Linked DNA regions of Homo sapiens. The protein of the gene in region 1 interacts with the protein of each later gene in a pairwise test. Each region holds a gene or a part of one and is shown on either strand. Other genes may lie near its edges.

The links.
Region 2: the proteins of CENATAC (region 1) and MESD interact in binary tests that used the Homo sapiens proteins (3 or more experiments, as listed by UniProt).
Region 3: the proteins of CENATAC (region 1) and TXNL4B interact in binary tests that used the Homo sapiens proteins (3 or more experiments, as listed by UniProt).

Annotation. Positions count from the first base shown.
Region 1 is NC_000011.10:119,011,566-119,015,221, reverse strand, and holds part of CENATAC (centrosomal AT-AC splicing factor), read right to left. Parts: intron 3,284-3,656; coding exon 3,219-3,283; intron 3,074-3,218; coding exon 2,968-3,073; intron 1,991-2,967; coding exon 1,960-1,990; intron 229-1,959; coding exon 139-228; intron 1-138. UniProt on the Homo sapiens protein: Component of the minor spliceosome that promotes splicing of a specific, rare minor intron subtype. Negative regulator of centrosome duplication.
Region 2 is NC_000015.10:80,983,209-80,986,864, forward strand, and holds part of MESD (LRP chaperone MESD precursor), read right to left. Parts: intron 1-3,656. UniProt on the Homo sapiens protein: Chaperone specifically assisting the folding of beta-propeller/EGF modules within the family of low-density lipoprotein receptors (LDLRs).
Region 3 is NC_000016.10:72,087,352-72,090,639, forward strand, and holds part of TXNL4B (thioredoxin-like protein 4B), read right to left. Parts: coding exon 3,267-3,288; intron 2,827-3,266; exon of another isoform or gene 2,738-2,826; intron 1,788-2,737; coding exon 1,636-1,787; intron 1-1,635. UniProt on the Homo sapiens protein: Essential role in pre-mRNA splicing. Required in cell cycle progression for S/G(2) transition.

The DNA.
Region 1 (3,656 bases):
ACTTCTGGGCTCAAGTGACCCTCCCACCTCAGCCTCCCAAAATGCTAGGATTATAGCCATGAGCCACCACACACAGGCAAGGAAACCATTTTTGAGTGTGAAGATTTAGACGATCCTCTCTTGAATTAGTTTACTTACTTTCTTTAAGAAATTCTTCATAGGATGGTCCTATTTCTTGGTTCCCAGCAATGTATTCTTCATCTTGGATCATCCAGGGAGGTGTGGCACCTGAAAAAAAAATTAAGGCTTTTTTTTTTTTTTTTAAGTCTTCAGGCTATTGTGAAACATGTCCTAGCTGTTAGCTTACCTCTCCTCATTAAGAGCTAGAAATGTCTAAAAGCAAAGCCCAGGAATTCTGGAGCTTTAGAAGGCCCTAGGCTAATTTAAAGCGACATACCCCATATGTGACAGTCATTTTAAAATGGCTTTGAGGCACAACTGACATAAACGATACACACTTAAATTTGGTGACTTTTGAGCGAAGCCATTACAATCTAGACCCCAAACATCCCCCTGTAAGTATCACTGCCCCCATTAAAATATTTTCATGTCCAGGCAATCGGTGATCTTTCAGTTGCTTTATTGGTTTGTATTTTTTAGGATTTTCTGTGTGTGGACATTGAGGTGGGGTCTGGCCTTTTGTTTTTTTGAGAGGAGTCTCGCTCTAGCCCAGGCTGGACACAATCTCAGCTCACTGCAACCTCCGCCTCCCAGGTCTCGGTTCAAACAATTCTGCCTCAGCCTCCCAAGTAGCTGGGATTACAGGCGTGCGCTGCGATGCCCAGCTAATTTTTGAATTTTTAGTAGAGATGGGGTTTCACCATGTTGGCCAAACTGGTCTTGAACTCCTGACCTCGTGATCCGCCTGCCTTGGCCTCCCAAAGTGTCGGGATTACAGGCATGAGCCACCACGCCGGCCAGGTCTGGACTTCTGAGATTCATCTGTGTCGTACGTATCAATAATTCTGTCTTCATCCTGGAATACTATTCCATTGTTAATCCATTTGCCTGTTGATAGACATCTGAATTGTTTCCAATTTGGAGCTGCTACAAGTGAAGCTGTTCTGAAGATTTGTGTACAAGTCTATGTAGACAGGCTTTCTTTTCTCTAGTTAGGGGTGGAACGGTTGGATAATGTGGTAGGTGTATCCCAAACTGTTTTCCAAAGTGACTGTACCAGTTTACATTCTAAGAGCAGTGTATGAAGGTTTGGTTTTTCTACACTGCCAAACACTTGGCATGATCAGTCTTTAATTTCTGCCATTCCAATACATATGTAGTGGTATTTCACTGTGGTTTTAATTTGCATTTCTCTAATGACTAATGTTGAACATTATTCATATGCTTTTATTGGGTTGTTTCCTTATCAAGTTGACAGTTCTTCATATATTCTGGATATAAGGCTTTTACCGATACATACGCTTTATCTTGGCCAACTTTATTTAAAAAAAAAAAAAAAGTCCGGGCACGGTGGCTCATGCCTGTAATCCCAGCACTTTGGGAGGCCGAGGCGGGTGGATCACGAGGTCAGGAGATCGAGACCATCCCGGCTAAAACGGTGAAACCCCGTCTCTACTGAAAATACAAAAAATTAGCTGGGCGTAGTGGCGGGCGCCTGTAGTCCCAGCTACTTGGGAGGCTGAGGCAGGAGAATGGCGTGAACCCGGGAGGCGGAGCTTGCAGTGAGCCGAGATCCCGCCACTGCACTCCAGCCTGGGCGACAGAGCGAGACTCCGTCTCAAAAAAAAAAAAAAAAAAATTAGCTGGGTGTGGTGGTGCACACCTGTAACCCCAGCTACTTGGGAGGCTGAGGCAGAAGAATCACTTGAACCTGAGAGGCAGAGGTTGCAGCGAGCTGAGATTGCGCCACTGCACTCCAGCCTGGCGACAGAACAAGACTCCATCTCAAAAAAAAAAAAAAATCTCCCAGGGTTTTAAAAACACTGCCCTGGACCTTACCTGAGTGGATGTTACCAACTCCTGGTATATCCTGTAGTTGGAAATGGGAAAAAAAGTGCTAGTTAAAGTCTAGGCATGATTAAAAAAAAAAATCCTAGAAACGATAGACAAAGCACACTTTAAAAGAGGTGGGTGTGACTGCTGCCACAATGCTAATTCTGCACCCCAGCTGATGTTAAACTTTGAAAGCACAGTAAGTCACTCTAAGACAACCCTGTCCTCAGGAAGCTCACAGTCATAACAGTGGAGATGTCTGTAAGTAGAGTGGCTATTACATGCCAGGGGAGCAAAACCTTGCCCTCACAGCATACATATAATTGGGGAAGAGCATTAAGCACAAGTTACGTAAATTACATTTGCAACTTTACATGGTGCTACATCCACTTGAAATAGAGATAACCTGTTCAGATAAGCCTTTTATGAAAAAGTGACATTTGAGCTAACAGTTGAAGGTAAACTAGGTGATGAGGGAAGGAAAGCAGGTTTTAGACAATGGCAACTGCAAAAGCCCGAAGCAACACAATACAGCTGAAGTGTAGAGTAAAATCATAAGTGGTACAATGATTTTCTGTTTGTGAGGCAGGATTGAAGGGGGAGTAGAAATTGCCCAAAGGCTGAATGGAGGCAGACAGGTTAAAATTGACCGCTTGTTGACAGGATATGGGAGATGGAAAAGGAAAGGATCTGCATCTAGTGATTGGAAATATAGGAGTGGTGGGGGTTAGTTTCAGATGCCTGTGGGATATTTAATGTCCTGTGTTGAGTTGGAACTATGAGTTCTACAGAGGGCAAGATTTAGGAGTTGGCACTCCTAAGTGTCAATACATGTGAATAGGATCGCTTTGGAGGGTGAGAAGAGGTCTGAGAACACTACTAGGGAACAGTGAAGGAAGAAGGAAAAGCCTGCAGTGGAGGCAGCAGTGGCTTGAATAGGTAGAAAATCAGGAGAAAGGGGTCCTGAGACCTGAGGGACCATTGGCCCTCTTCTGGCTTGCTTATCCTTTGTACCTGATGGCCAATGAATGTCAGAGATGGTCCTGTCTCCATCCAGTCAAGCTCTGGAGCTGGTGGCAGGTCCAAATTTGAGGGCTGCTGTAAGCTGGAAGCTACTTGGCTGAAAAACATGAGCCAGGCTGCCAGATGAGGTCCTTGAGCCATGAGGGTGGTAAAGATTAGATCTGTTTCCATTTCCCAGGCAAAAGGTTGCAGAATGTTCTAAGATGTCAAATTCCCAACAAGAGATTCCCTAATAGTCTTACCTGTTCATCCCTTTCCAGCTTCTAGGTGCTGAAGAGCCCTCTTCTGGGTCTGGCACTGCCTGAGGCTGAGTTTGATTCAGGAAAAATAAATGTGTCTGGGATGCTTAAGAGCCTGCCTAGGCCATGCCTCCACCCTCCAGACCCCAGTATCACAGGAAGGAAACAAATTAGCATATGGAAGGTACTGCCCATCTTTTACAGACTCTTCCCTCCCTCCCTCCCAGTCCTGTCCACATATTCACTGACTAGGCCTGCCCCCTGGCACACAGGTAAGGGAATTCAAGCCAAGCAGATGAGAATGCAGTCAGAGTTCTCTTAGAAGCACTGGTTCATGGCCGGGCACAGTGGCTCATGCTTGTAATTCCAGCAGGCTGAGGCGGGTGGATCACCTGAGGTCAGGAGTTCAAGACCAGCCTGGCCAACATGGTGAAACACCAC
Region 2 (3,656 bases), on another chromosome or scaffold:
TTCCAGCCTGGGAGACAGAACGAGACCCTGTCTTAAAAGAAAAAAAAAAAAAGAAAAGAAATACTCCCTCTTTGCACTGTATACTTAAAATCTGCACTCCATGTATACCCATTTCACTTAATAGGCATTGTACAAAAATATTCAATTCCAGTTAGCAGGTTTGTTTTCTGTAGTGGTATGGGCTAGCAATTCTGAGACTATCTTATGTGACCTCTAGGATTGAGAAAAGGAGTAAACATATTGAGGGTAATGAGAGCCAGGTTCTTAACTTCTGGGAAGTAAGTTACAAACATGAAAGGGGGAAGAATGAGCCCTGTGGTATTAGGCTGGAATTGAAGGTATCAGGAGAAACTCATGGTTTTTCATAGATTAACAGATGAGTAAACAGATTAATGGATAAAAATATTTAAAAGAGCGTGGGTTCCTTGGAGAACAGGCTTATAGCAAGAGAGACAGAAGATGAGCCTAGAATAATCCCGCATCACAAAGTAGTAAAGTGCTCAAAGAATCGTGAACATGTCAAAATGCCATGGAAGCCAACTTGAAGCAGCTCTCATGGGCCAAAGTTGAAATAATCTCAACATCAAAATAAATAATAGTATGACTTACAACCCCTCAAACAAAATGAGATGTTGAACCCATAATGATCAAAACAAATGAATAAATTACTAATAGAAAACAGTAACTTTTTTTTTTTTTTTTTTTTTTTTTGAGATGGAGTCTCACTCTGTCACCAGGCTGGAGTGCAGTGGCACGATCTCGGCTCACTGCAACCTCTGCCTCCTGGGTTCAGGCGATTCTCCTGCCTCAGCCTCCCGAGTAGCTGGGATTATAGGCACGCACCACCACATCCAGCTAATTTTTGTATTTTTAGTAGAGACGGGGTTTTGCCATGTTGCCCAGGATGGTCTCGATCTCCTGACCTCGTGATCTGCCCACCTCGGCCTCCCAAAGTGCTGGGATTACAGGCATTAGCCACCATGCCTAATAAATAGCATATAGACTGACAAATAAAAAATCTTTAATAGAACCAGGTTCCTTGGAGAAAAGGCTAATGCCAGCAACCAAAAAAAATGAAGTACTGGCTGGGTATGGTGGCTCACAACTATAACCTCAGCACTTTAGGAGGTCGAAGCTGGAGATCACCTGAGCACAGGAGTTAAAGACCAGCCTGAGCAACATATCATGACCCTATCTCTACCAAAAAGAAAAAGAAAAAAGAAAAAAGAAATGAAGTACTGATTGATACATGAAAATATTATGCTAAGTGAAAGAAGCCAGATATGAAAGACTACACATTCTATGATTCCATTTATAGGAAATGTCCAGAATGGATAAATCTGTTGAGACAGAAGGTAGATAAGCGATTGCCCGGGGCTGGCTAGGGAGTTGGGAGAACACAGGGGAGGAGTGGTTGAAGGTTTCTTTTGGGGATGATAAAAATGTTCTAAAATTGAGTTTGGTGATGACTGTACAATTCTCTGAAGATACTAAAACTAAAATGTACACTTTACATGGGTAAATTGCCTATGGCATGTGAATTGAATCTCAATAAACCTGTTACCAAAACAAAAAACAAAAAAAAGCCCCTAAGTCACTCTTACTGAACAATATCTGAAGGGCCAAGGCTTAAGATACCATTAATAATGTACTATATTAAAAATAATTTTAGTAAAAAGTAAAAACGAAAGAATTCTACGCAGTGCTTGAAGGTGATCCATACCGACGTCAGACCTGGAATCTGGTTTCAGTTTTGCATAACTAGCTGTGTGACCCTGCCTAAGAATCCTTACGCCTCGAGGCCTGTTTCCTCATTTACAAAATGAAAAGCAGAACGAAGTGATCTCCAAGGCCCCAGTAACATGACCACACATAACACACTAACCTTCTTTTCCACTCTGCCACCCTCTCAACTGACATGTTTCTTCCTCACTTTGCTTTCAAAGAGCCACTGATGGTGACTTGCAGACAGGAGCATGGGCTGTGCTGTCAGACGGATGCGCTCCATCACTATGTGGCCTTGGGCAAGTTACTTAGCCCATCTGAAAATAACTTTCCTTACCTATAATGGAAAGCTGAGGGTAATAACAGCTTCTCCCTCCTAAGGTTTGTTTGGGGATGTAATGACTTAAAGGCAAGCAGAACTCAGTACTGTATCTGTTGGCTATGACACTGCTGACTCTTTAGGCCTCTGTGATCTGGCCTCCAACCACAATCACTGCATGGAAATTATACTCTCAAGTCACAAAGGACCTCCTAGTTGCCAAATTCACAAGTTGTTTCTGTCTTTATCTTAATTCTCCATAACATCGGTTATAGTCTCTTTAAAACACTTCAAGACTTCCAGTTGGTTCAATACCCTAGAATATTTGTATTTTTCAGATTGATTTCACTAATAATCATGAAATTAACTCAGTAGGTCCCAAGCAGCTTTTTTTTTTTTTTTTTTTTTTTTTAGATGGGGTCTTACTCTATTACCCAGTTTGGAATGCAATGGTGCTGGTGCAATCTTGGCTCATTGCAACTTCTGCCTGCCAGGCTCAAGTGATCTTCCTATCCCAGCCTCCAGAGTAGCTGGGACCACAAGTGCATGCCACCACACCTGGGTAATTTATTTTTGTATTTCTGGTAAAGACGGGTTTCACCATGTTGCCCAGGCTGGTCTCGAACTCCTGAGCTCGAAGGATTCACCCGCCTCAGTCTTCCAAAGTGCTGGGGTTACAGGCATGAGCCACTAAGCCCAGTCCAGCACTTCTTTGTTAATGCAAATATAATTAAATAGTCGTAAGTCTAGTGCATATAATACAGGTAAAAATTGTTTCAAGAGACTTAAAAAAAAAAGCAGCTTTAATTTCCATTGTATATGTGTGTGTGTGTTTCAGTTACAGAAAAGAAAATTGCAAAATAGTACCCTAATGAGCCTGGAGGACATTATGTTAAGTGCAATAAGCCAGACACAGAAAGACAAATACCGCGCATTCTCCTTCGTATGCGGACCTAAAATAGTTGTGTTCACATAAGTGGAGATTAGAATTGTGGTTACTAGAGGCTGGGAAGTGGAGGGGAGATAGGGAGAGAGGATGGTGAATGGATACAAAATTACATTAGATAGGAAGAATAAATTCTAGTGCTCTATAGCATTGTAGGATGACTATAGTTAACAATAATTTATTGCATATTTTCAAACAGCTAGGAGAGAATTTTAAATGTTCCCAACACAAAGAAATGATTAATGTTTAGGAGACAGATATGCTAATTACCCTGAATTGACCATTACATTTTATACATGTGTAGAAATACAACTCTGTACCCCATAAATATGTATAATTATTATATGTTAAAATTGAAGTGTAAAAATAGTACCCTAGATGTACATAATTATCCAGTTCTACCCTTAGTCTGGGTAACCTAACCTGTTATGATCAGTGTGTTTATGCTGAAAACAATCCAGTCTTTACCCTGAGGCAGAGCGGGGGGCCAGGGACAAGTCAGGCAGTCCCCTGACTCCAGTCCTAGCCCTGCCTCCAGGCCAGTCTTGCATTTTCAACTGGCTTTAGAGCTCCTTCATTACTGTTTGTCTAAGTCAGTAGCTACAAAGCTGAGCTCCCCTTTCTGCAAATCCTCTTCTTCCTCCCATGGTTCTTGATATTAATAAT
Region 3 (3,288 bases), on another chromosome or scaffold:
GTGTGTGTGTGTGTGTGTATGTGCAGATACAAACTTCTTTTTTCCCAACATTGGGAATTATGTCATACAAATTATTCAGTAATATGCTTTTTTCTAGCTGACATATATTTCTTTCATTTGTTAAATGTGCATCTGCAACATCATATTAAAGTCCTGGAAGTGTAATTACTGGGTTAAAAAGTTTAAAAACTTTAAACTATTTGATACATAATGTTGAACTGGCCCCCATAAAAGGTTGTACCAAATTAATACTTACATCAAATGTGTTCCAGTAGAATAAACAGCTTTAAAATACTTTTGTGTTTTTTTTTTGTTGTTGTTGTTGTTGTTTTGCGATGGAGCCTTGCTCTGTCACCAGACTGGAGTGTAGTGGTGCGTTCTCTGCTCACTGCAACCTCCACCTCCTGGGCTCAAGCGAATCTCCTGCCTCAGCCTCCTGAGTAGTTGGGATTACAGGCACCCACCATCATGCCTGGCTAATCTTTTTTTTGAGACGGCAGCTCTGTTGCCCAGGATGGAGTGCAGTGGCGCGCTCTCGGCTCACTGCAAGCTCCGCCTCCTGGGTTCATGCCATTTTTCTGCCTCAGCCTCCAGAGTAGCCGGGACTACATGCGCCCGCCACCACGCCCAGCTAATTTTTTGTATTTTTAGTAGAGACAGGGTTTCACTGTGTTAGCCAGGATGGTCTCGATCTGCTGACCTCATAATCTGCCTGCCTCGGCTTCCCAAAGTGCTGGGATTACACGCGTGAGCCACTGCGCCTGGCCATGCCTGGCTAATTTTTGTATTTTTAGTAGAGATGGGGTTTCACTATGTTGGCCATGCTGGTTTTGAACTCCTGACCTCAAATGATCCGCCTGCCTTGGCCTCCCAAAGTGCTGGGATTACAGGCGTGAGCCACTATGCCCAGCCTAAAACACTTTAAAACAGATAATATTTCACATACTTTCAAATAAAGACAAAAAGGGTACACAGATCTAGATAAGTGGACACATCAACCACAGTAAGAAATGATCAGAATCATGGATGCACCCAATCATCAATATTAAGTATTGAGATGGTAATTGGATGGAGTGGAAGGCACTAAAGAGGACATCATGTTACTTATTCTTGACAGGCTTTGTTGAAGAATGATTTAAAATTCAATGGCGAAAAGCAGGAAACTTTGCAAGAGAGAAGCACATCTTAGTTTGCTAGAAGGAATGTTTCTTTCATAAATGCCACTTACCAGTCCAAAAGCTTAAGAAAAACTACATGTTTTGTTTCAAATGAAATTCCTGGGAAAATTTTAAGAGTTCTTTATTTAGCTAATATGGCTATTTTATATTTTATAGACTTATGGATGGTAGTGCTTTGCCACCTGTACTATTTCTTCATACTTAAGTCGGAAATTAAAATTTGACAAACCATGTGTATGCACTATTAAAAAAATAAATAAAATTTGACAATCATACCAGAAGCACTCTCATTTTGTAGCAAGGTTTTGCATAAAAAATTAGAGAGTGCGTCAATTGGGGAAACAGTACTGATATAAGACTCACAGAGCCAACATCACATGGAAATAGGCAAGCTACTGAAAATGCTTACCAAGGAAACTTACAAGGTTGCAATTAACTTCAGATCAACTGCACTTACCCATAATCCACTTTCATATGCTGCCCATTGAAGAAAAAGACAGTAGATGGAATATAACTGATGTCAAAATACTGTGTATAAACTGCAGTTTGGTCCACATCTACCAGGTATATAGCAGCCATTTTACTTAAGTCAGAAGAGGTCTTAGAAAGCTGCAAATGACGAGAGAGACAAAGGTTACAATATGAGAGGCAGCTTAATGTTTCTTCTGTGAAACTTGTTACTACAACAGAGTGTTTTGTTTGAAAAAACTCCTGGGCCAACAATGCAGCCCATGTGGCTCCCACATTAGACAAAGCATAACCCCATCCTCCAGAGTCTCATTCACTGCAACGGGGTTAGGAGGGAATCTTGGGGAAAACTGTATGAGGTTAGGAAGGGACCTTGGGGAAAACTGTGTGAGGTTAGAAGGGGACCTTGGGGAAAACTGTGTGAGTTTAGGAGGGTGACAGCATGGGAGTATTCCTGTCTATTCATTGTGGAGAGAGACCTAACCCAGAACTAAGACCTCTACCCGCCATTTCTACTGCTGCCATCCCGTGTTAAGAGCTGAGCATACAAATCCTTGGGGAAAACTGTGTGAATCTATTTCTTCCTTTAATTTCTTTCTTTGAATGCTTTTATAAAAGTAGCCCATGCTCATTTAAAACAACACAACTTAGAAATATGTTATGTGGATACTGAAATTCCCTAACGTCTCCTTCCTCCCAATCCTCCCAGAAATGAAAACCACGATAATTAGTAGCAGACACTTATATAACATTACTATGTGGTAACTGTCCTAAGTGCTTAACATTTGTTAACTCATTTAATCCTTACATCATTCTTATAAGGTATATGCTATCAGAGTCCCCATTTTATAGATAGGGAAACTGAGGCACAGGAAGGTAAAGTAATTTGCCCCAGGTCACACAGCTCCTGAGCAGTAGGGCTGGGGTTTGAACTTTGGCAGTGTGGCTTCAGTGTCTACATCACTGACCTCTGTGGTATTTCCTCCTGCTTATGACTGAGGGTAGAATCCTCTGGTCCTTTTTTCCCCAAGCTAACACATCACACCCTCATTGTAACCACGGAAATGAGGATTTGTACGCTCAGCTCTTACACGGGATGGTAGCAGTAGAAATGGCGGTAAGAGGTCTTAGTTCTGGGTTAGGTCTCTCTCTGCATCAGGCACATACTGGAGGCAGCACACTAGAAAAGATTATTTGCAGCTACAGAAAACTGAGTTCAAATCTCAACTCTGCAATATAGTGGATCTGCACCTGTGGGAAATTACTTGACCTCTCTGGTTTTTTTTTTCCTACTGGGAAATGGGGCTACTATTATCCCACTATTGCGAGCACTGAAAAGATAGTGTTCACAGATGCTTGTTAATAGTTTTCTGCTCTTCCATCACCTTGTTGGTGAAACAGCATTGACAGCTTCTAGTGGGTAAGGACATCCAAGACAGATTCAGCACACACAGATTTGGGGGCTTGGTTCAGGGCAGGCACACAATCAGCTCTTAGTGAACTAACAAATGAACAGCTATATACCCAACCCTGACTACTCCCTCTCATGTACTACTCAGATGCTGAAGTGAGAATATACAGATTATTAATAAAAACCAATTATTTTAGACATTCACTTACAATATCATCTAGCTGCAGACAG